3 linked regions of the Homo sapiens genome follow. The protein of the gene in region 2 interacts with the protein of the main gene of each other region in a biochemical or structural test. Each region holds a gene or a part of one and is shown on either strand. Other genes may lie near its edges.

What was found. Proteins that work in one complex are often made in the same cells at the same time.
Region 1: of the proteins of PARP1 (region 2) and CASP3, one has a biochemical effect on the other in vitro, tested with the Homo sapiens proteins (9 studies listed by BioGRID and IntAct).
Region 3: the proteins of PARP1 (region 2) and APLF form a complex in vitro, tested with the Homo sapiens proteins (3 studies listed by BioGRID and IntAct, with this or other methods).

Annotation. Positions count from the first base shown.
Region 1 is NC_000004.12:184,631,924-184,639,447, forward strand, and holds part of CASP3 (caspase-3 isoform a preproprotein), read right to left. Parts: intron 6,546-7,524; coding exon of another isoform or gene 6,531-6,545; coding exon 6,478-6,530; intron 3,496-6,477; coding exon 3,371-3,495; intron 474-3,370; coding exon 345-473; intron 18-344; coding exon 1-17. UniProt on the Homo sapiens protein: Thiol protease that acts as a major effector caspase involved in the execution phase of apoptosis. Following cleavage and activation by initiator caspases (CASP8, CASP9 and/or CASP10), mediates execution of apoptosis by catalyzing cleavage of many proteins.
Region 2 is NC_000001.11:226,376,638-226,384,685, forward strand, and holds part of PARP1 (poly [ADP-ribose] polymerase 1), read right to left. Parts: intron 6,547-8,048; coding exon 6,399-6,546; intron 4,572-6,398; coding exon 4,431-4,571; intron 3,528-4,430; coding exon 3,285-3,527; intron 3,005-3,284; coding exon 2,936-3,004; intron 2,638-2,935; coding exon 2,505-2,637; intron 667-2,504; coding exon 471-666; intron 1-470. UniProt on the Homo sapiens protein: Poly-ADP-ribosyltransferase that mediates poly-ADP-ribosylation of proteins and plays a key role in DNA repair.
Region 3 is NC_000002.12:68,462,675-68,471,108, reverse strand, and holds the start of APLF (aprataxin and PNK-like factor), read right to left. Parts: upstream 3,525-8,434; 5' UTR 3,378-3,524; coding exon 3,282-3,377; intron 1-3,281. Other genes in the region: FBXO48 (F-box only protein 48), read left to right, coding at 5,964-6,269, 6,739-6,900. UniProt on the Homo sapiens protein: Histone chaperone involved in single-strand and double-strand DNA break repair.

The sequences.
Region 1 (7,524 bases), on a different chromosome or scaffold from region 2:
GTGATCTTCTTTAGAAACTGTAAAGACATTTGCAAATAAAAGGAAAAAAAATCCATGACTTTATTCAACAACTTCAGATATACTGTATGGGAACATGATGAAGAAACTGAGACTAAAACTAAGAGGTCATCTTAACCTAACCTGGGGCACGGCAACACATCTCAAACCATTTTAGGAAGTTGGCATAAATAACTTTTTTTAAACTTCTTACTAAAGTATGTAAGATTAGGGTTATGTACAGTATAATTCCACAATTCTCATATTTTATTATACATATAATTATTGCTAGACCATAGTATAAAATTAATTGTACAATGAAGTTCATTCTAATTGTTTCTTCTTACCATCACGCATCAATTCCACAATTTCTTCACGTGTAAGATCATTTTTATTCCTGACTTCATATTTCAAGTTTCTGAATGTTTCCCTGAGGTTTGCTGCATCGACATCTGTACCAGACCGAGATGTCATTCCTTGGAACAGAAAGAATTACTTTTAATTGTATGGAAAACAAAGAATAACTACTTTGAAATGAAATTAACTACTCAGCAATTCAGAAGTCCACAATAAATTCTTCCTTTTAAATGGTAAGAGAATTCTAACTATTTTGAACATGGTGAACAAAATTTCTTCAATTTTGTAGCTTATAAGATACTTCATAATATAAGCTCATCAGTGTTATAGCCAAAATGATGTCTTTCACAGCGGTTTAGGTAGTGAAAAACACAAATGTCTAACAATAAGGGTTTGGTTAGACAAGCTATACTAACTTATATAATGGGATATACTATGTTGTCATTTTCACAGATAAAATGTTGCCATGGGAAAATCATCAGTTTAAAAAAATAAGACTAGAAAACAATACGATCCTATAATACATACACACATCTGTCACACTCAGAGGAAATGCGTTTCTCTGACTCTAACTTCCCAACAATTTTAAGATAGCATTACAACATTTATAGTGCCTTCAAGGAAAACCCCCAAACATTATTACTGTTCATCAGGTATTCTGCTATGGCTAATCTCTAATCCTTCCAATCACCATGAGAGTCATATTATTACTAGTTTCACTTGTGCAGATGTGGGACATGTAGCAGAGTTAACAAACCAGTCCAAAGTGACAAAGCTATGCTGGGCCTGTATCCAGGGCTCCTGGGCTTTCTACCACTCCTTTAGAGAACCTTCCACATTAACGTACAGATTGACTGCATGATGCACTCAGATTTCAAAATGCTAAATCTTGGTGGGAAACATCCCTCAGAATTGAGTAAATTTGATGGGTATGAAGATTAAATACAGAAAGTCTACATGTATCTCCAAAATGTTGTTGATTATCTCAGCTGTGTGACAAGGTCACTGGCTTCTGGTGCTGATGTGTTGGCTGCCTTTTAATTTTTATTTATTTTTATTTTTTAGACAGGATCTTGCTCTGTGGCCCAGGCTAGAGTACAGCAACCACAGCTCACTGCAGCCTCAACCTCCCAGATTCAAGCTATCTTCCCACCTCAGCCTCCCGAGTAGCTGGGACTACAGGTGCGCACCACCACACCCTGCTACCTTTTTTCTGTTTTGTAGAGATGGGATTTCCCTGTGTTGCCCAGACTGATCTTGAACTTTGGTGCTCAAGGATCCTCCTGCCTTGGCCTCCCAAAGTGTTGGGATTACATGTGTGAGCCATGGCGCCTGGCCCAACACCAGCCTGCCAGAGATCTCATGAGAACCTGACCTTTACATTGCAAAGTAGGAAAGGAGCTCACTGGGCAAAACCCAGACTGCTGGTCTAAATATGTGGGGGGAGGTGCTGGTGGTAGTGGAATAATATGCTTGTTTTTGGTTTTTGAAACAATAGAGCCAACAGTGCAAAATTCTATAGGAAGGAGGTATCCTAACTAGAAATGTGAGGCAGAATATCTAGAAGTAAATTTTCAAATATGCGTAAAGCAAAAGTAAACAAGGTGTTGTGTTTTTAAGTTAATGGTTGAAGGTGGCATCTCAACTTATAGCCAAAAGCAATAAAACTGATGCCATTTAGAGCTCCATTTTCAACTATTCTCTTCTCACTCCTTATAATTAATCTGACACAAACCCTGCTATCTTCCCAGTGTAATCTGGCTTCCTTCCATTTCCACCACCACTCTGATAGGTACTGGCCCACCTTAGATCTACTACAGCTTCTCTAATTAAAAATTAACTCTAATATGATTAATAGGCCAATTCAAAGAATTATCATAGCATCAATTTAAAAGGGAAACAGCCATAATGTTCATTCATACAGTAAATTATTCAAATTAAGTGAATGGTAGTTTTGGGGATGCAGTATTATATAATCATTATAACAGATATGAAAATTATGCAGCAATATGAAAAATGCTATTCCTTTAAGTGAAACAAGCAGAAGACAACATTGCTTATACGTTATGAATAAAATCAAGCTTTAAAAAGAACTGCCAAGAAAAAATAACAATACACCAAATATTAATTAGCTTTTTTGGCACTGTGAAGGATTTTATTATCTATATTTCTAAAAAAACATTCTCAAATGTAGTACTACATTCAAGTTGTACATAGTACAGAAATCGAGAGGGGGATCTGGTGGCAAGGCCATGGTAAATTTAAAGCAAGCAGTTTTAGTAGTAGAGACAGAAAATGGAAAAAGACTCAAGAAGGAATGGAAACAAATGAAGAGTACAAGCTTAAACTACATGTATTCAAAATTTAAGGAAGAAGGGAAGGAGACAAAATATCAAAGGAATCAAAAGGAACAGAGTAAAAGAAAGGTCTCTCTAAGATGGGGAGCTTCGTAGGGTAAGGGAAGACAGGCAACAGAGCACATGAGGATACAAGGAAGTGAAGCAGAACAGAAGATGGATTCAGAGCTTGGGCTTTGGAGCCACACAGACCTAGCTCTGCCGCCATACTGTGTGACTGCGCGAGGTCTTTAACCTTTCAGAATCTCATCGTTACTTTCCAGGTTGTCATAAATTAAATAAGGCAATGCTTGTGATATCTCTTGCAGTTTCTGGGGAAAAAATAAATACTACCACTTAACTGTTTTTTTGAGAACCTTCCATTGGGATCAAAGAGGAAGCAGAAAGAAGAAAAAGAAGCAAGGGCTACAGAGAAGTCAGGGCAGAGGCAACCAAGCATACAGATAGGAGGCCAGCAAGAGGAGGCTATGAAGTTGGGCAGAAGAGTGACGCGTTCACAGTGTATCAGAGGACCTGTAGGTCCTGCCCAATCTCTACTTCACAGCTAGTCTGTGTCACGGTTTACTGTCTAATACCTCAATAATACTGCTTTTAATATTATATCAAATGTAAATGGCACAAACATTTGAAAAGGATTAAAAATTATGTAAGACACATACCAGTGCTTTTATGAAAATTCTTATTATTAATTATTATACATAAACCCATCTCAGGATAATCCATTTTATAACTGTTGTCCAGGGATATTCCAGAGTCCATTGATTCGCTTCCATGTATGATCTTTCTGTTTAGAAATCAAATAATAGCTTTACAAAGGTAGAAATGACCACGCCTTCTGTTTATATTAGTGCAATTTTTATAACTCACAGTAACAGTTAACACTTGTTGAATGTTATAAACCAGGCTGTCTTCATTTCAATTTCACATCAACAGTTATACAGATGAGAAAATGACCTGACGTGAGGCTAAGTAATGTGCTAAAGGTTATGCAAATATTGTGTCACAGCCAAGAAGGAAGGAAAGCATCTGTTGGACTTCAGAGTTCAGGCTTTTAACTTCCATGTTTTACATTTTCCTCTAAATTCTTCAAAATTTCATCAAATACCTTTATAATTTAAAAATTACTTATTAACTTTGTGAAATATTTTATCCTTTGAGGTAAGAGTAAAAATCTTAAAAATTACCCTGAAATGATGGGAAATCAACAAAATGCAAATATAACTCAAAGCACAATATTTATCACAATTCATAAATTATTCCTTAAACCCCATGAGCTAAACAAATTAGTAATTTATTAATATATAAAAGCATTATTGTAAATAATTGAAAATATCTGTCTGGAAGTCACTTATCTAAAAAAACCTCTGCTATCTAGATTGGGGTCAGTAAACTTTTTTTTTAATGGGCTAAATATTAAGTGTTTTAGGCTTGTGGGCCATCTGGTTTCTGTTACAGCTACTCAATTCTATTCTTTTTTTTTTTTTTTTGAGACATGGTCTGGCTCTGTCACCCAAGCTGGAGTGCAGTGGTGCCATCATAGCTCACTGCAACTTTGAACTCTTGGGCTCCAGTGATACTCCTTCCTCAGCCTTCTGAGTAGCTAGGACTACAGACAGGCATGCCCCACCATGCCCAGCTAATTTCTGTATTTTCTTTTTTAGAGACAGGATCTCGCTATGTTGCCCAGGCTAGTCTTGAACTCCTGGCCTCAAGTGATCCTCCTGCCTTGGCCTCCAAAAGTGCTGGGATTACAGTTGTGAGCCACTGTGCCCAGCCATAGCTGCTCAATTATACTGGTGAAACGGGCTTAGGACAATATGTAAGCGAATGGATGTGCCTATATTCCAACGAAAGTTGATAAAAACAGGCCTTAAGCTTGATCCCTGATCTAGACCAAGAGTCAGGCAAAAACAGGTCTAGGAACTACCAAACACTAACACCTACAGTCCATATACTCATGCACTTAACCTTAAGAGCATCTCACATTATACACAATTCCAAAAATACTGTTGGAAAAAGATTAAATGTAGTAAATTAAAGGAGTCAACGTGAGAAAACAGTTATGATTTTTAACCAGAGGTGAACAGCCTCACATTTACAGACTGAAGTTAAATCCTGAAAGCGTGACTTGACCTTTGAGTCCTACAGATGATGGATCATGGGACTTATGACTCCCAGCTCCCGACACCCCTTCCCCACGTGCTCTGGGTGCCTCCTAAGGAGGTAGGTACTTTACAAGCATATGATAGCTAGTCCACGAGGGGATACTCCTAATAAAAGGCAGAGGCTGTGAAAGCCGGGACTGTGAGGGCAACTTACCAAAGGATCGAAACAACCCTAAACCTGTCTGGGGCTTCCGTGCAACTTGTTATTGAAGTGGTGTTCTGCATGACATGAAAAGGTAGGGCCAGGCAGGGTGGTTCACACCTGTACTCCCAGCACTTTGGGAGGCCGAGGCAGGAGGATCCCTTGAGGCCAGGCATTGGAGACCAGCCTGGGCAACACAGCAAGACCCCCATCTCTACAAAAATAAAAAACAAAAATAACCAGGCATGGTGGCACATGTCTGTAGTCCTAGCTACTCAGGAGGATTACTGGAGCCCAGGAGTGCAGTGAGCCATAATCAGATCACTGCACTCCAGCCTGTCTCAAAAAAGAAAGAAAAAAAAAATAGTAGGAAAATGTGTAAATCACTTTCAAAGGATTTTTTTGAAGAGATGGGGTCTTACTTCACTGTAACCTCTGGCGTGTAGCTAGGACTGACTACAAGCACACACACTATGGTGGACTAATTGTTTTTTGTTTTTTTGTAGAGACAGGGTCTCGTTATGTTGCCCAGGCTGGTTTCAAACTCTCCACCTCAAGTGATCCTCCTGCCACAGCTCCCACGTAGCTGGGATTACAGGAGCAAGCCACTGCACTGGCTAAAATGATTTAAATGACAGCAACAACTCTCTAAAATGGGACTGCATTTTAAAAGTTTACTTTCTAGAAAAATCCCTTTGCTAAACAAAATTGTGAAATCTTTAGTGGTAACTTGTTAATAGTATTTCTGTAATCATATTGTTTAGTAATAAAATTAGTTTGTAATATTCAGGGCAGCCGAGAATAACAATACTGGGTTTCAGAAATAAACTTTCAGAATTTAAAGTATTACGAGAGATCCCAAATAAATAATAACAGACAAGAATTAAAAAGTGAATTTGAGTTTTATCTTTTTCCTTTTTCCATCTGCTAGTTATTGGAAGCATTAATAAGCAGAATATTCCAAAAAGACACGGGGAAAAAAAGGGTAAAATTCATCCATAACTAGGCAGTTTGTCCCCGGACTGAAAACTGGCATTGCATTTTAGTCGTAAAAACTCATAAACAAGAGGTCAAGAAACTCCTCCCAAACCTAAACCCTCTAATCCTATAGAGCGATTCGGGAGGGTAGAAAGCACCGGCGCTTGGGAGTCCTGCCTCTCCTGTGGTGTCCTTTTGGTTCCAGGACTAGGTTTCCAACTATGGGTCACACACCCTACTAGGCCTTTCCTTTCATCTTCCCTTCAGTTCTGTGAAAGTTTTAGCCCCATGTTAAAGACGAGGTTCAGAGAAGAAAAGTCAGTTTATGCAAAGCCACACAGCTGTCTGAGGTAGGAAGTCACTTGGTCTCTCTGGCCTGAGAGAGAGACCACTCTCTTTCCTCTTGCCCCACTGCTCGAGGTTTGCTTATTACACATCCCCATCTTTCTCTGATTATAAAGAATTCAATTTAAATACTCACGGTTCCAAATTTTTAATGGATTTTGAATCCACTGAGTTTTCAGTGTTCTCCATGGATACCTTTATTAACTAGAATACAAAGAAAATAGAAGTTAATAAAAAATCAGTCATAAAACCACTGCATTATATTAATTATCCCAGTGATTATTTTTCCAAATTAATACCTCAGTTCTCCCTCTACTGTTAAAGGTGTATGTGAGTCAGTTCTGGGGATAATGATTTCTTTGCAATGGTACATACAATTTAGCCTCTCTCTCTCTTTTTAATTGAGCTATGAATTATATATAGTGAACTACATAAAGCATATAGAAAGTATACAGCTCGATTTTTTATATTTACATACCCTCATCAGATCAAGATACAGATTACAGTTTATTTCTTTTGTAAGACAACACCTCGGGTCATTTCTAAGAACTGCAACTCAACACAGTTAAAACAAAAATCAAAAACTTCCCACCACAATGGTATAACTCACATAACACAATTCTACAATGCTTAGATTCCCAAGATACAGTATCAAGATGTTCCAAATCTCCATTAATCTTTATTCTTTTTTTTTTTTTCTTTTGAGGCAGGGTCTCACTCTGTCACCCAGGCTGGAGGGCAGCGGCGCAATCACGGCTCACTGCAGCTTCGATCTCCTGGACTCAAATTCTCCCGCCTCAGCCTCCCGAGTAGCTGGGATTACAGGCATGCACCACCATGTCTGGCTAATTTTTGTATTTTTTGTAGACATACGGTCTCGCTGTATTGCCCAGGCTGGTCTCAAACTCCTGAGTTCAAGTGATCTGCCCACCTAGGCCTCCTAAAGTGCTGGGATTACAGGCAAGAGCCACCGCACCCGGCCTAGTCTTTACTTTTAAAGTGGGTTTTGGAAGCCCAGCTTCTCATTTAGGGTAGTAAAATGGCCCAGGAAATGTAAAAGTAGAAACTAAAGTTTCTGCTTTCATTCTTCCATTACACAATTATATCTCACAAGGTGAACCAGTTCTTAGAATCAAAGCAACTATCACTTATTGAGCACTTAATATATACCAGGTACTTTGCA
Region 2 (8,048 bases):
TGACTGTATTAAATGCTTTTTCTGCCATCTACTGAGATGATCATGTGGTTTTTGTCCTCCATTCTATTCATATATTACATTGATTTTTAAATGTCGAACCAACCTTACATTCCTGGGATAAATCCCACTTGGGAGTGGTGTATAGATCCGTCTATGCTGCTGGATTCGGTTTGTTAGGATTTTGTATCTCTATTCATAGGGTTTCTGCATGTCTATTCACAGGAAACTGCTCTGTAGTTCTCCTGTGCTGCTTTGGCTCTGGTATCAGGGTGGTACTGGCCTTCATGCAATGAGCTGGGAAGTATTTTCTTCTATTTTTGGGGGAGAATTTGTGAAGGACTATTATTCTCCTTTCAACATTTGGTAGTATGTTTACTATGATGCCACCTGATCCACGATGTGGATTTTCTAGAATAAGGTGTCCCTTCCTTTTCCTAGAAGCAGACAGTGTAAGGGCATTATGTGGTTACCTGGCCATAGTCAATCTCCAGGGGGTAGAACTTTTTGGGATACTTCGTGAAATTTTTGGAGTGCCAAGCGTTCCCGGTTTTTTCTTCATATAATTTCATGAAGTGCTCAATGGCATCCTCCTTGGACGGCATCTGTTCCAGTTTGTTGCTACCGATCACCGTACCCACACGGCCCCAGGACCTGAATATCCAATACCTGCAGTGGGAAGGAGGGTGTCAGATACACATGTGTGGGTCAGCTGTCCCATTTCAGGAGCTCCCCTTTCCTGCCATTACATTCACGTGGGGAAGAATTTTACACACCCCAAAAGGATGGTGATTAACACAGAACAAACACAACTGCTATAACAATAAAGGGTCTTTATTTTACTTTTCATTAAACTTTCAAATCATATTGACTACAAAAAATGCCAAAGAATAGTTTAAACTTGGTTCTGGCAGCCAAGCCTGAGGACTGAATCCTGGAGTCTGGAGACCTTTGCATAAAAATGATTCTAGTCCTCTCCCCAAAGAAATACAAAGTACTATCTGGAAGTCATGTGTTCAAGGAGTCAACCCTTACAGCTGTACCCTAAAAATAATGAAACTTTCAACTCAGATCCAAGGCCAAGACATGATGAAATGAGGGGGGCAGTGGCAATGGCTCCTCAGGTCCGGTGACCTAGAGATGCAGGCTGTCATGTTCAAATTCCATCTCAATTGAGGGTACACATCACACACACCCAGCTGCTGTGCTGCTCAGCTTTGGATGAGCTAATTTTTGATTAACTCAAAGCAGAGGTAATGCAACACTTAATTGTCATTTCATAATAAATATATATATATCATAAACCCACATACAAGATTTGTGTACATTTTAAAGATAGAACTACAGATTTCAAAGAAAATTTGGGACTCCCTGGCCATTCTCTGGGCTACTGAACAGGGGTATAAAAATTCATTCTCTGCTTGGTTTTTCCTGTGAAAATTTTTGAGAAGCACTACCTTGATCTACGTTGAAAATTTTTTCTGACCCTAACAGCCTACACCACCCTTTCACTTAACACCAGGAAATCTAAGCCACCAGAAAAATGTCCACATCCACAATCAACGTTAGAATTTAGTAAGAGTTCCTTCCACATGCCTTTACACTGACACATAAATGCTATTTTGTGGTGGCTGTACTGAGGGGCAATGAACTCACTAGATAAGGACCACTCTGCCTAGAAACATAAGGACAAAAGCCAGCCCAACCTCTCACCACCTCCCAGCTGCTGTACCCCACCATCCACACTCCAACCTTGCCTGTCTCACCATGTTAAAAAAAAAAAAAGGCAAATCCAACCTCTTTAGTTACTAGGGAGTTTGAACATTAAAGAGTAAGTTCAACGCTTGCCAACCTTTATTTGCTTCAAAGTTTTAAAACATATGTAAAATCAGAAAATCTTGATTCAAGTAGCTGAAAGAAAAGCCAGCTGGGGCTGGGTGCAGAGGCTCATGCCTGTAATCCCAGCACTTTGAGAGGCTGAGGCGGGAGGATCACTTGAGTCCAGGAGTTTGAGACCAGTCTGGGCAACACAGCGAGGCCCGTCTCCATAAAAAATAAGGCATGGTGGTGCGCACCTATAGTCCCAGTTACTCAGGAGGCTGAGGTGGGAGGATTGCTTGAGCCTGGGAGGTCAAGGCTCCGCTGAGCTGTGATTACGCCACTGCACTCCAGCCTGGGTAACAGAGCGAGACTATTTCAAAAAACAAAACAAATAGTTGCAAAACAACAACAAAAAACAAAACACCAAACAAAAAGAAAAGCCAGCAGAAGAATATGTGAAACCATACCTTGGGACAACTGTACAAGGACAGCAACGCTACTGGTTAGTAAGTGGCTTCTTTCTCCCCTTTAAGCAAAGGCCTTATAATTTGTTTTTGATCTCTGTGATTAGATTTCATTCCCCAGGCACTGGGCCTAACGGGTTTCACAAGGCTGATGGCACAGCACTAACCAATGCAGGACGGGCCCATGTCTCTGCACAACCAGGCTACACCTGCAGAACTCACCTGTTTTCCTTGTCGTCCTCCAGAAGCTGCAGCTTGTAGTAGGAGTTGGTTCCTTTAACGATGTCCACCAGGCCAAGGGTGGCACTGAAGACCTTCCCACCTTTCTCCAGGACATGCGCAGAGTGTTCCAGTCCTGTCCCAGAGGAAAAGCACCTACAGTTTTCTCTCCCCTTGAGGTGCTAGCACTCTCACGGAGAAGGGATCTGCAGGCCTGAGGTTCACGCCTCTTGGATACACTACCACCACCCTCGGGAGGCTCCCCACAAATGTGTGTTCTCAGGACTGGGGGAGCTGGTGAAGGAGGCCTGAGTGAGGACAAAGGCACGACCACACTGCCCCAGGTATGCTGCGGGCATTTGGATGTGTGCTCCTAGTCAGCTGGGGGTTGGGGGGCGGCACAGCCCACTTTGCTGGCAGTCCTGTTTGCTTACCAGAATCAGGATCCACAGCTGCTCCTCCTTTAAGAGTTAATTTCATTCTCTTTTCAGATTTGTTGATACCTTGGAGGAGAACAGAAAAATGTAAACATGAAGTTAAATGTAACTAAAAAGTAAGGGGAAGGTAGAAGGCAAATGAGTTGTTCTCATTCCCATCATCTGTCAACTCGGCATCTATATACACACTACTCCCGCCACCCCAAAGCGCCTGCCATTCTGTGTCCTGCTCTGCAGCACTCAACAGGCCATGTCAGGGACACAAAGGGAGAGGTTCCGTGGACAACAACCTGGCCACCAATGTCCCTGGCTTTTGGCCCTGGAGGGGGCAGCTTGGGGCCCTCACCTTCCTCCTTGACCTGGCCCTTGCTTTTTTTGGAGAGCGCAGCCCCTGACTTCCCTCTTGGGGCCACAACTTCAACAGGCTCTGCCTTCACCTCTGCCCCCCAAGGGGACAAGATGTGCGCTAAGAACAACTCCTGAAGGCTCTTGGTGGAGGCGGAGACGTCCTGGAGGAAGTCCTCAGACACAACTCGGATGTTGGCTTCCTTTACTTCCTCCATCTTCTTATTCATCTTTTCCACCTCCTCTGTTCAAATTGAAAGGAAAAAAAACCAAAATACAAGTTTAAAACAAAACTGAAACTTCAAATTACTACAGTTATATTTAGTGTGTACTTCCAAACCCTCAGCATTCACAGCTCTCCTTTGCTTCCAAGTCTAATGCTCCCAAGAGTGTTTTTATCAGCAACATTCCCCCTTTTCTAAGGTATGATGAGCCAGGGCAGCCTTCTCCAAACCATTCTACAGCACGATGTTAACAAACACTCCAAAGAAAAAACACCCTGATGTCAAATATGTATGGGAAATCCTGTATTCTATTTCTCTGGTTCCTGAAGACCTACAGTGGTAATCAGCATAATAAACCCACACAGAAACCTGTTTAGCTTTGTTTTACCCTACCTTTTCCAAACATACTTGAACCTTGAACTTCTGTTTTGGCAGATATCTATGCACATCTTACAGAGCAGTGCGAAGTGATGAGAATACAGGTTGAGCAGCTTCCCTTATCCGAGATGCTTGAGACCAGAAACCTTTCAGACCTTAAAATACTTGCTTCATATTTACTGACTGAGCATCTAATCCAAAACTCTGAAATCTGAAATGCTCCAATGAACATTTCCTTTGAGCATCATGTTGTCACTCAAAAAGTGTTGAATTTTGAGGCAATTTGTTTGGGCTTCGGGACTAGGGAGACTCAACCTATAGTAGCTTACCGTCTTTAGTTGAGAACACGCAATGCATGTGAATCTACAGTACAAAGCAGCAACACTGAGAGCAAATACTGGTTTCCCTTCATAAAGAACCACAGCGATGATGATGTTAAGATCCAGTTTTTCAGCGCTGTGTTCGACTCTTCCTCACTTACTCGTCATCACAATCATAAGATACAGAAGCATTGTCCCTGTTGCACAAATTCAGATTCAACTCACTTTTGGTGCTGATGCACAGGGAAGCCTTGTTGGCCGTCCCCGTCAACTTCCCCCCGAGTTTCTCAATCATGGCCTTCACTTCATCCTTGTTCCGGGACAGCTTCCCGAGAGTCAGGATCTTCATGTTGGATAATGGCTTATCTGGGATGAAAGGAGAGAATCATTCAGCAAGGCCAGCTCTGGTGCTGCTCCCCAGTAAGGGGAGGTGGAGGAGCAGGTGAGCCAAGCAGCGAGCTCCTGGGAAAAGCCTATGAAAATACACTCGCGAGAAAACAGGACGGGACAGCAAGCTGCCACCTGAGTACCTACAGATGTCCCTCAGCACAGAAAGGACTGGGCAGGGAGCAAGCCACAAAATGCCACTCCATGGCCAGGCCAGCCTCGCGGCGTGAGCCAGGCAGCTGCGGGTTACCCCAGGTCCGCGCCAAGGTCAGGCTAGGAAGGCTGCATCTGCGGACGAGGGACCAGGAGGCTGGAGTCGGATGGGAAGAGGGGTAAGGTCACATGAACCCCCAATTCCTTCTGTTATTCTCCCAAACAAACTGCAATTCTTATGAATTAACCCCATTTTAAAATGAGACATGTCCATGATAGTCCCTCAAAGCAGTGGCCAGCACAATCACACGGAGCTGAGCTAACTGATTCTAGGAGAAAAGCAGCAGCCTGGTGTGCACTGACCCAGGCCAGAAAGGCCTGGACAGGGGTGTGCCTTCTGTTCACAGCAAACAACACAGTGCAGGTGACACCCGTCCAGAACTGGAGTAGCTGCAAGGAAAAGTCCTTCCTGCCTTCCCTGTGAGGGCAAACAACTAGGAAACACTGACAGTTTAACTGAAACTGCTGAGGTCTCCAGAGAACAAAATTATTGACTCATGCTGAACTGCAAGTCAGGGGAAAGCAGAGGAGGGAACCCTCCATGGAGGGGTCAGAATGCCAGCCCCCAACTGGCCCTTCATGTGGGCACCTGGACCCAGGCTGCCAGCAGCACAGTGGACTCGGGATGACCACCAGCACACACTGCAGTGACCACTGGTCCCCTCTCAGGATATGAAAAGGAAGTCAATAACAGGTTTATGTTCAAGGAAGGAACCCTCATCCTCCACCCACCAAACTGTGACCTTCACCAATAGACTATGCCACATGTCTCTGAGTAAACAAGCAGCGGGTCACTTCTCCTGCCAAAAAAATACGTTGCTCTCACTGTCTTGGTTGGCTTGGGGCATTTCTCACTAGTGCTGATTAGTAACTCCCTCTGCATACAACAGAGACTTGAGCATCACACCAGGGCCCGGATGACTGGTGGGCGCAGGGCAGCCTGGAGAGTGAGGCCTGGGATGCTCCTCTGCAGTGCAGTCAGGCAGGAGACCCTGCGCCCAACTCCAGGTAAGGCTGTCGACCTAGCCTTTCTTAGGAGCCCCTCTCCTAGCCTCCCAGAGTAAGAGCTGCTTGTTCTTCTACAATGTTTATTTTATTTTTAGAGATAGGGTATCACTCCATCGCCCAAGCTGGTGTGCATTAGCGTGATCATAGCTCAGTGCAGCCTTGACCTCCCAGGCTCAAGGGATCCTCCGCCTCAGCCTCCTGAGTATCTAGGGCTAAAGGCACATACTCGGATTAATTTTAAACATTTTTGTAGAGATGGGGTCTCACTACATTGCCCAGGTTGGTCTCAAACTCCTGGCCTCAGCAATTCTTTTGCCTCAGCTTCCTAAAGTGCTGGGATTACAGGTGTGAGTCACTGCTCCCAGCCGATGCTATGTTCTTAACACTCTCCCACCTTGCTGTGGTCAGGGGTGTAACAAGCCAAGAGAAGAGGCCTATCCCCTGCAGGGCAAGGCTTCCCCATGGTGGGGTCAGCAAAGAGAGACCCTTGACGGATACTTTCTTCACCAGCTCCACACCACCAGCAAGTAGTGGGCAAACAATTCCTGCAAAGCAGCTCTAAGACCGGGGTCCCAAATGCTGTACCTGCTGAAGCAGAGGAGTTCACAGCAGCAGGAGCCGAGGCTGTGGAGGGCGGAGGCGTGGCCGCCACGGAGGCGCTGGTTTCTGGGGGGAATATACGGTCCTGTTTTTTAACCTTCAATTTCTTGAGGTAAGAGATTTCTCGGAATTCCTAAAAAATATTAAGTTTTAGTTAAGAAGCCAGCTCTCCCTTGAGGTAACCACCCCATAGACCAAAGAGGATTTGGCTTGTCCAAATCAAATAATCTCTTTTTTTCTTCTTACAATAAAGAGTAACAAAAAATAGAAAAATGTGAGGCTTTAAGGATGAAAGACAGTATTATTGCTGCTACAGTACTTATTTCCGGTACTTTTACATTTATAATAGGGCTAATATTGTGGCTGCTTTAAGAGAAAAATCTTTCCCTAAAAAAAACAAAAACAGAAACCAGTGGCCAATTCGGTCAGGGAACCACCACTGGAACTGCTGTATGACTACAACCTCCCTGGCCTCATTCCTGAGTTGCTCCCTTCGAGAGTTAATAGGCCTCTGTGGGATCACATGCCTACTCCAGAACTCCAAGACCCCGAATACTATATACACACTGGGAGATTATTACCCAAAAGGAAATCACAGTATTTGCTTTCCTTTTTAGAAGAAGGAAAAATGAATGCAGGGAGCCCTATGGTATTCACTATAAATTCTTCCATCAGCACAATTCACTCTTCACTCTGACTGATTTACAAGGGGCCTTGCTCTAAATGGTCACTCAATAAGTATCAAATACATGAAGCTCAGGGAAAGATACTGTGCTCCCAGGTCTTCATCCAATCAAGAAACTGCCCTTTCCAGCTATGCCTGTGTTCAGGATGTCAGTTAGATACAAGAGGTCACAGATTGCTTCCGACACACACAGACCACCTAATATGTGCTACCAACCATAGTCTGGTTAAAAAGACAGTTTCTGCTCTTCAGAAAGTATCTCATTCGTGACTGAGCATCAGCTATAGGAAGGTGAACTTTAACAAAGGAGCTAAGCTATGCCAGAGGTGTGCCAAGGTGATGTGAGACAGGGAATGCTAGCATGCACTTGGAGGCAGTGATCTGCTAAGCCCACTGGGAGCTGAAAACACAGGGGACTGCCTAAGCACAGCCATCTGAGTAGCACACGGTGGCATGTGGGGTGCCCTGGCTAGGCGCCCTATTGCTAGGTACTCCTAAAAAGAATGAGCAAGACTGGCGGTGGGGTGGGGAGAGGGGTATGTGAGAAGGAAGAAAAGGGTGGCAGAAAAAGGCTGCAGAAGGCCAGCAAAGCCGCATCACAGAGGGCTCTGAGGACAAGCTACAGAGCTGGCCTTGATTCTGTGGGACAAGTGCCTGGGGGCAACAGTGTCACTGCCTGGGCAGCAAGCACTGCCAGACCAAAAACTTGTCTCGCACATGCACATAACCTTTAAAAATGTATATAGATGCTCTACAATTGATATATAAAATACAAGGAATGGCACATTGCTTATTGCCATCTTACTATTTCCCCATCAAAGATAGTAAAAGAAATACAAATACCACGTAAGGGTCTGTAAGATTTGCATACCCAGAAAAATCGGGGAATCAGTCTAAGATTTTAAGGGTGGGGGAAGTGACAAGGTCAGATTTATTTTAGAGGAACCACT
Region 3 (8,434 bases), on a different chromosome or scaffold from region 2:
TGTGTGCTAGGCACTGGTTGTAGGCTAAATAATAAAATGAGGGAAGGGCAAATCTAGAAATAAAAGAAACGTAAGGGAAGAAACCTATGTTGGAGCAGGTAGGAACAGCATTCCAGGACAGCCAGGATTCTGCAACAAGCAGTTAAAAGTATAGAGCTGCCAGGTCAGGGGATGGTTACTTTGTGTAAACTTTGTAGAACATTTACAACATTCTTAGAAGTGGTGAACTGATGCCACCTGAAGAGTCTATACTGAAGCCTATGACCTTCCCTGTTCCCCCAACTGAGGACTCTTCTCCTTTTAATCAAAGCAGTCAATTTAATTACATCTACATTGAGAAAGTATCACTAGATATCTTTTGCTATCTTGTTTCCTAGGAGGAAAATAGATCATAAAGAAATGTGTCATATAATCCCTGCTGTCAAAACAAAATAAGAAAAATCTGAAATCAGAAATAGTAGATTTCATTTAAGAGTGTAACAGCTTTAATTAAAACCCATAAAGCAAATACTTTGGCCTAACAGTGCTTGACATGTCGTACTGTAAAACCCTTTTAAATTAAATTTCTTAAGATAATGGTAGATTCACATGTAGTTGAAAGATATAATATAGAAATATCTCTTGTACCATTTATCCAGTTTCCCCTAATGGTAACGTCTTACAAAACTATAGTACAATATATCAACCTAAGATATTGATACTGACACAGTCCAGACAAAGCACATTTCTATCACCACAAATATCCCTCATGTTGCTATTTTATAGCCATATCCATTCCCTTCTGCCCTGCTGCCTAATTTTTTAACCTTTGGCAACCACTAATCTGTTCTCCATTTTTGAAATTTTGCAATTTCGCAATTTCAATGATGTTATATAAATGGAATCACACAATATGTAATCTTTTGGATTGGCTGTTTTAACTCAAGTTCTCTGAAGATTAATCCTGCTGTAAAACCTTCTAACTGATGCCAATCATGGAGCAGAATCAAAATCTAGTAAACAAAGACCTGGGGTTCTCTGATGACTCACATGAAAGCAAAGGGAACAAGAAAGATTAAATTTCATTGTCCTTTGTTCTCTGTGACAGGTTTCTCTGTTGTGTTTTCCTACCACCATAAAAATACAAAACCATTCTCATTGTCAAACTGTTTTACTACCAAGACTATTTTACACAGTCAGATTATAAACTTTTATGTTTGTGTGGCCATCAAGGTTTGTGAAGCTTGTCTCAGAAAAACATGCCCAATTAAGAAAGTTCAAAATCATCCTTATTTATATTAATCGTTTCCGATTCCAATTTACAATGAACTTACTGAGTTTTCCACTTAGAACTCAGTCTTCGCTCTCTCACAATACAAAAATAAATCTCACTGGAATTGCTGTTGTTGGAAACAGGAGCCCTTATGTTGTGTTTTAACCAGTGCAGAGAAGAATCGAGTGCATCTGTCAGCTCCAAAATCGAAAAAACTACAAGGCGATTTGTTTGTTCTCCAAATTTTTCCTTTAACACACTTAGGATGTCATTCATAACCACTTCTGATACACGCCAACCTTGGCAAAAGAATCTCATCCCTGAATGTTATTTCAAAAGGAAAAGCAAAATCTTGACCAGGTAATTGCCCAGCTTTCACTCCTTACCATTTTTAAAAACAGATACCAAATAGGCTCATCTCACATTAGCAAGTCGACAACACAAAGAACAAGCTACAAATAATGAAACGGTCTGCAATCTGTTGCCATGTTTCTAAACCACGGCCCTAAAATTCATCCACCTTTTAACCAGACCCACAGTACTCTACTGGTGACAATTTCTTAAGCAAGTCAAAACTCGTTAGTCACCAGACATATGATTACTAGATTAAGCACATACTCTTAAGTTTCAAACCTACGAATTTAAAAGAAAAATAAAGCCTCCAGACAGTTCCTTCCAGTGTTTGTATAGGCCAACAAACGATGAAAAAAATAGAAATGATGTTAAATATTTAAATAATCACTTGTCCAGTAAAAAAATGAACAGCAATTGAATATCTACTTCCTCAATAACCTTACCACATGCACATGTGCATGTACACAACACACAACACACAACACACACACACACACACACACACACACACACCCCTTTAGGACCAGCTTCCATAATACAATCTTAAACTACCACTCCTTTCCCTGCTCCCAGAAGGGACCTAAGGCAAGTACCAATGGTTCCATTTAGACTCTGGAAGTTAACCAGGACAACAGTACACACTCCTTACTCCTTGGTGTTAGCTCACTGACACAGGTGTCTCCCCGGTCCCAAGAGAAAACTCCTAAAGGGTAGGGACCCATGTTCCATTCATCTTTGTATGCCCCACAGTGCTAGAATCTGCAAAATGTTCTACACAGTGAGCACCAAACAAGAAATGTTGAATGTTAAAGAACAAAATAGAAAACTAGATGTACTTAAGAGATCTATAGAATTCCAGAATGCAATATGCAAATGTTCTTATTCCTAAACCTCTCCCAAAGAAGGTAGAGAATATTTAGCTTTGTGGCATTATGTGTCCAAAAGCTTATGTATGGACTTTAAATAATGTATGTATGGCTCAATTTTCTCATCTGAACAATGAGGATAATAAAAATAGCTAACTGATACGGTCTTGAGACAGTTAAAGATGTTGGTATAGGTAATGTCTCCTTAGACCAATGACACGAACGCTATACACATTACTTATGAAGGGTTAGCTACTCATTTTACTGGAAATAATAAATAATATAAATAAATAAGGTCCACACAGCTCTGCAAAGGAGACCAAAGGTTAAAAGAAATTAGCCTAGAAGACGTAATATCACAGTTTGGCAAACTTTTCTGTAAAGGACCAGACACTACTGTAAATATTTTAGGCTTTACAAGACAAGCCGCAATACCCTCAACCCTTGGAGCAACTATTCCCCCTGAAAAATTAGTAGATTTTTTGTTTACATTTTACATTTCAGAATTTAAGAATCATTCTTAGTTCATGGGGCCATACAAACATAGGCTGGATTTGGCCCCCAGGCACTAGTTTGCCAATCCCTGGATAAGATAATAATGGTAATACAGTCAGTGTTTTAAAAGCAACATAAAGAAATGTTTGTGAATTGGCTTAAAGGTAACTGAAAAACGTGCGGCCCCAAACTTCTAAAATCCGGACCGGCGGACCAGTGCGGTGGGGAAACCGGCCAGGACTAGGGCCGGTCTTCAGGAGCCGGCGCGGAACTCCACGGCTCTCGGGGTCCGCTAAGCCCCCGCCCACACTTACTCCCAGCAGCGGCCCGCGGCCGATCACCGTCTCCCCGGGCGCCAGGGCCACCCGGGGACCGCCGTCCCGCGGCTGCAGCTCGAAGCCCCCGGACATGGCGGGCAAGGATTAGGCCCCTTCGCCAGGAGACTGGCCCCTCCGCTGTTTCCGCCCTCCACAGACACGCGCGGGGCAAGCCCACGCCCTGGGAAAAAACACCGAGGGAGGGCCTCAAAGGCTCCCCGCGGCTGCGCCGGTCCTCTCAGAGCCCGGCCCCAGCGCAGCTTCACGAGTCCCGCCCCTCCACGCCTACTAATGACGCAACCGGGGATTCCCCAGTCTCGCCGCCTCAAAACTACTGTTTAAAAACCCCGGCTTATTCCCCAACACCCTTTTCACCTCCCTCCCATCTTGGAGGACGCCGGGCCTTGTAGTCCTGGTGGCTTTCTTCACTTCCTTTCCCGAGCGGAGACGCCCTGGAAAAAACTACCAATCCCCAAAGGCACTGCGCGCCCCTCTCGGCGCCTGCGCGAGTTCTGAGCAGGGCGGGACTCAGGTGGGCGGGATGCGAAGAGCTATGGGGAAGGATTCGAATTCCGGTGGATTTAAATCGCGGGAGGAGAAGCTACCGCGGCCTAGTAGGTAGAAGGGTCTTCCGTTCCCGTTGGCTTAGGTGTCTACGCTCCCGGGGACGCGGCCTGGACGCAAGCTCAGCCTTCCCTCCGCGGCCTGGAGCCGCAGTGACAGTCAACGCTGACGGTTGTTGTCACTTGTCAGTGCCCTGTGTTCTTGGGTTCCAGCAGCTGCAACCCGCGCGGGACACAAGGAGGGTGGCTCAGACGGGACGTGGGGTGATTAGCCCTGACCCGCGGGATTTGGACGGAGTGGGGCTCCCCGCCCCTCCGACTGCGCTGCCGCCGATCTATCCCTCCGAATGATAGTTGAAAGGGGGACGAGCTTTTACTTCACTTGAGAGAGAATTCAGGAAAGCTCAGTTCATAAAGGAGAAAGGGCAGAAGAGGGGTCGTTTCCAGGCATCCAGGCGAACCTGGACGTAGAAGAAAGATTCCTAGTGGGATTTTAGAAACTCGCAAAGGTATCCCCTGCTGTGAAATTCAAAAGCCTTCATTCCCGTTACAGGAATTCCACAAGGGGACGCATTTTATTCTCCCAGTAAGATCCTGGGAGAAGTGGATAAACACACTGTAACGTTTAAATGCACTGTAACGTTTTCCTAATGTGAGATTCTTTTCAAGAACGTTGTGGTTTGGCTTTGGTTTGTATTGGTGGTGGGAGGGGCCAAGGTGCATGGCAAAAACTTGCTCTTGACTCACCCGTTTTTACGTTTGCTTTCTTACTTCTCCTAACCCTCAAGAAGAAGACCTCTGTTGAACACAGACTGCAGTTCCAGCCACCACAGCTAATCTGGATCATGAATGGGAGCCACCGTGGTCTTGGCAAGTCCGAAAACATAGCTGAGTAGCTCGTCTAGAAAAGAGATTTGTGTTCAGCTGAGTTAAAAGAAGTATTTACCTCAAACCTCTCCTCTTGCACAACCAACCCCCGTTATAAAAGGAAGTGCAAAATGGAATAAACTGATTTTAAGTGAATACAAGCTGTCTTTATATACAAAAGTAACTCAAGGATGGTGATGTACCCAGTCATGCTTTCAACTGATTTGGGAAGCCTACACCATTCACCTTAGGTAAATTAGCTGAAACTGAGCTTTAAATCTGGGCTTCAAAGAGTCACATACTGTACCTAGCTGAGTTCTAAACATTGTTTACAGTTGTCACTCACTGTTGCTTGATGTCTTCAGTGACTATTATCCTTAGCTTGTAATTATGCATGTAGGATAGCTTCAAGGGGCCATTTCTAAAACACTACTCTTATGACTGAGTTGAATATTTGAGACTTTGTTTCATAATCCAGATCTCATCTTCTTGTCCATTTCAGATAGTAGTTGTGTCAAATGTAAGCACCTACCTACCTATAAGATACAAGTAGATAAAATTCTTATATAAACAACTAGAAGTCCAGCAAGTTTATGATTAAGTCACAAATTGCAAATTAATGATGAGGCATCAGTTCCCATGTACAACAAGTATTCAGGAGTTTAATAGGATTGACTCATATACATTTTCAAAGGTACAAAAGTACCGGGTATGGTGGCTCATACCTGTCATCCCAGCACTCTGGGAGGCTGAGGCAGAAGGATTGCTTGAGGACAAGAGTTCAAGACCAGCCTGGACAACATAGCAAGAACCATTTCTCCGTAAAACAGTTTTTGGTTTTCTGTTTTTTTTTTTTTCTTTTTTTTTTTTTTAAAGAGGGGCGGGGTACGCTGAGTCAAGAGAATCGCTTGAGGCTGGAGTTTGAGGCTGCAGTGAGCTATTATGACACATCTGCACTCCAGCCTGGGTGAGAGTGAAACTAACATGTTGGGTGCCTCCCATGTGCAATTCAGATGTAGCAAGACTAGATATTTTACCCACTATCACTGTTAATCCTTGCAAGAACTTTCAGGAGAGCGGCAGCATTGGCCCATTTTACAGATTGAGAAGCTAAAGTCAAGAAAGAGTTCTTAAATTATACCCAAAAAGCATCTGACTTAAAGTAGGATTTATACTCCTATTTGGAGACTGAGCATGTTTAAATTTTGCCTTTTAGGTTACATATGAGGATAACTTAAAACATTAAGCTATGCATAAAAACTCCAAGAGAAACAATAATTTAAGAGTTTCTCACACAGAAGCGAACTCTGTGGATGCTGAGAAGGAAAAAAATGAGAGTCAAAACAACTTTTTTGAACTGCTGCCTGCAGAAATCACTTTTAAAATTTTCAGTCAGCTGGACATTCGGAGTCTGTGCAGGGCTTCATTGACATGCAGGAGCTGGAATGACACAATAAGAAACAGTGACTCTTTATGGAAACCTCACTGCATGACTGTAAGAGCTGTGTGCCGAAGAGAAATAGATGATGATCTAGAAAGTGGTTATTCCTGGAGGGTAAGTTTAATCTTTGCGATCTGCAGTGTTGTTGACAGCGTTATGATAGCAGGTTTGCGCCAATTCTAACTTCTGCTTGGAGGAGTCAGAATTACATATGCAGAATAACACAGACAGTGTGTTGACTCTTGGAAATGAGTTAAAGTTATTAGTCTTTTCCTGCTAACCACACTGTTTCCACACTATCTTTCATTTATCCTTTTGCATTTTTAAAATTCTAAATTCGGGAATTTTCCTGCGTTAACCAGAAGGGAATTAGCTCCTTCTTTCCACTTCACCTTATGCCACTCAGTATAAATACACATATACATACACACACGTACACAGACACATACATTTATTAATGTACGTATATATAAATGTAAATACTCTTTTTTTCAGCCCTGTCAATCTGCTTCTCTTGCTTTAAACACATTCACTAACCAACCACCTACTACAGTCTTTTTTAACGGTGATTTACCTCTTTCAGGTGATACTGCTGAGGAATTACCAGAAGAGTAAAGTGAAACACGAATGGCTAAGTGGCAGATACAGCAACATTTGTTCTCCCATTAGCCTACCAGAAAAAATCATGTACCCAATGGATGCAGATACATGGGGGGAAATTCTAGAAGCAGAACTGGAAAGATAAGGGGAAAAAAAATCACAAATCTCAGGTCTTTGAAAGTTTAAAACTTAAATGACTCTTAGGTTGCAAAAGCGATATCTTTATTCGTTCATTTTGTTGTTCACCTTTTTAAAAGAAAATGAAATGGAACTATTATAAAAGTAAAGCTTTATTTTTGTTTTGCACTTTAGTAAAATTTTTCTGGTTTTATTGTAATGTGGAAAAATCATGAAATGTTATTTTTATAAGAAATAATATACTGATAGAGTGATTTCCAAATACAATGTTTCATGTATTTGTGTTAATATATTTGCAATACTAAATGTAAGAGTGATTTGTATGTTCAGCTTAATGATAATTCAAAATTTCAGGAAGCCACTTTAAACTGACTTAAAGATTCATTAAGTGGTGGTTATAACTAGGCTCATGGGAAGACTAGCTAAGTGAAATTAATAGCAATACATTTAAATTAATACATTGACATTTTAATGACTTTAACATTTCTATTTCAGTGGAATCAGATTGAAATGTCAAATAGTGAAACTATTTTTAATGTGTTAAGCCTGTGGTTTAGTTTTAAGTTAATGTCATCTCAGGGCTAAAGTTTGTCCAATTGAGATTCCCATTAATTTTATATAAACCTGGAACGGCTCTCAGGAGCTGAAAGTAAGTGGAAAGTTTCCAGAACACTTTACCATCAGAATGCCACACTAGCCTGGTAAAACTCTCTTTCTGACAGCCTTATAGCACCATCTAGTGTGCTATTCTTAGATAGCAAGACAAAGGACTTTCAGCTCCTTTTTGTTTTCTCCATATTAAAAAGAAAACTGTTATTCTAAAGAATCCTTAACACTTGTCTTTGTTAAAGTTTATAACTTTTTAGGAACCTTTATTTTAACTTTTAAAAACTTTTGTTTCTCTTTTTTCATAAAAACAGATTATATGCTACTCACTATAACAAATTGTTTATTCTGAATCTGTGGTTACCACCATAGTAAAAAAGTGTCTACAAACTGCTTTAGTTAGTGTGGGGTTTTCTTCTTAAAAACTGTTCTCTATAGCATTAAATATAAGAATCCAGGAAACCAATATTTAACAAATAGGCAAATATTAGAAAGATGCCCCACTATATGCAAATTCTGTATGTTGAATCAAGCAGTAGATAATTAATTGTCTCCTACTATCTTCTTAGAGTTGGAAGAGTCCTTGAAAATCAGGCAGTCAAGTGTCCAGGACTATTCAGTAATTTTCTCAATAGGAACACTGTCAGTCAGCCAGCCCAAGCTGAAATCCTGTACTTCTACTAATAGCATCTCTGTTATGTCACAGAACAGTCCAGTTGTAGTCTAGGCTTGCACTGAAGACCACCTCTCTGTAACGTTTGCCTTCTAGCCCCACTTCCACCCTCTAGAACCAGGCTGATTCAGTCCTTCCTGTCTATGATTGCCAGATATTTGAAGACTGATAGCCTGTCTCTTCCTATGTCTTCTCTCCAATTCCACTGATGATCATAGAGTATAATTTCTAGACCCAACAACATTCTCTTCTGCCCATTTAC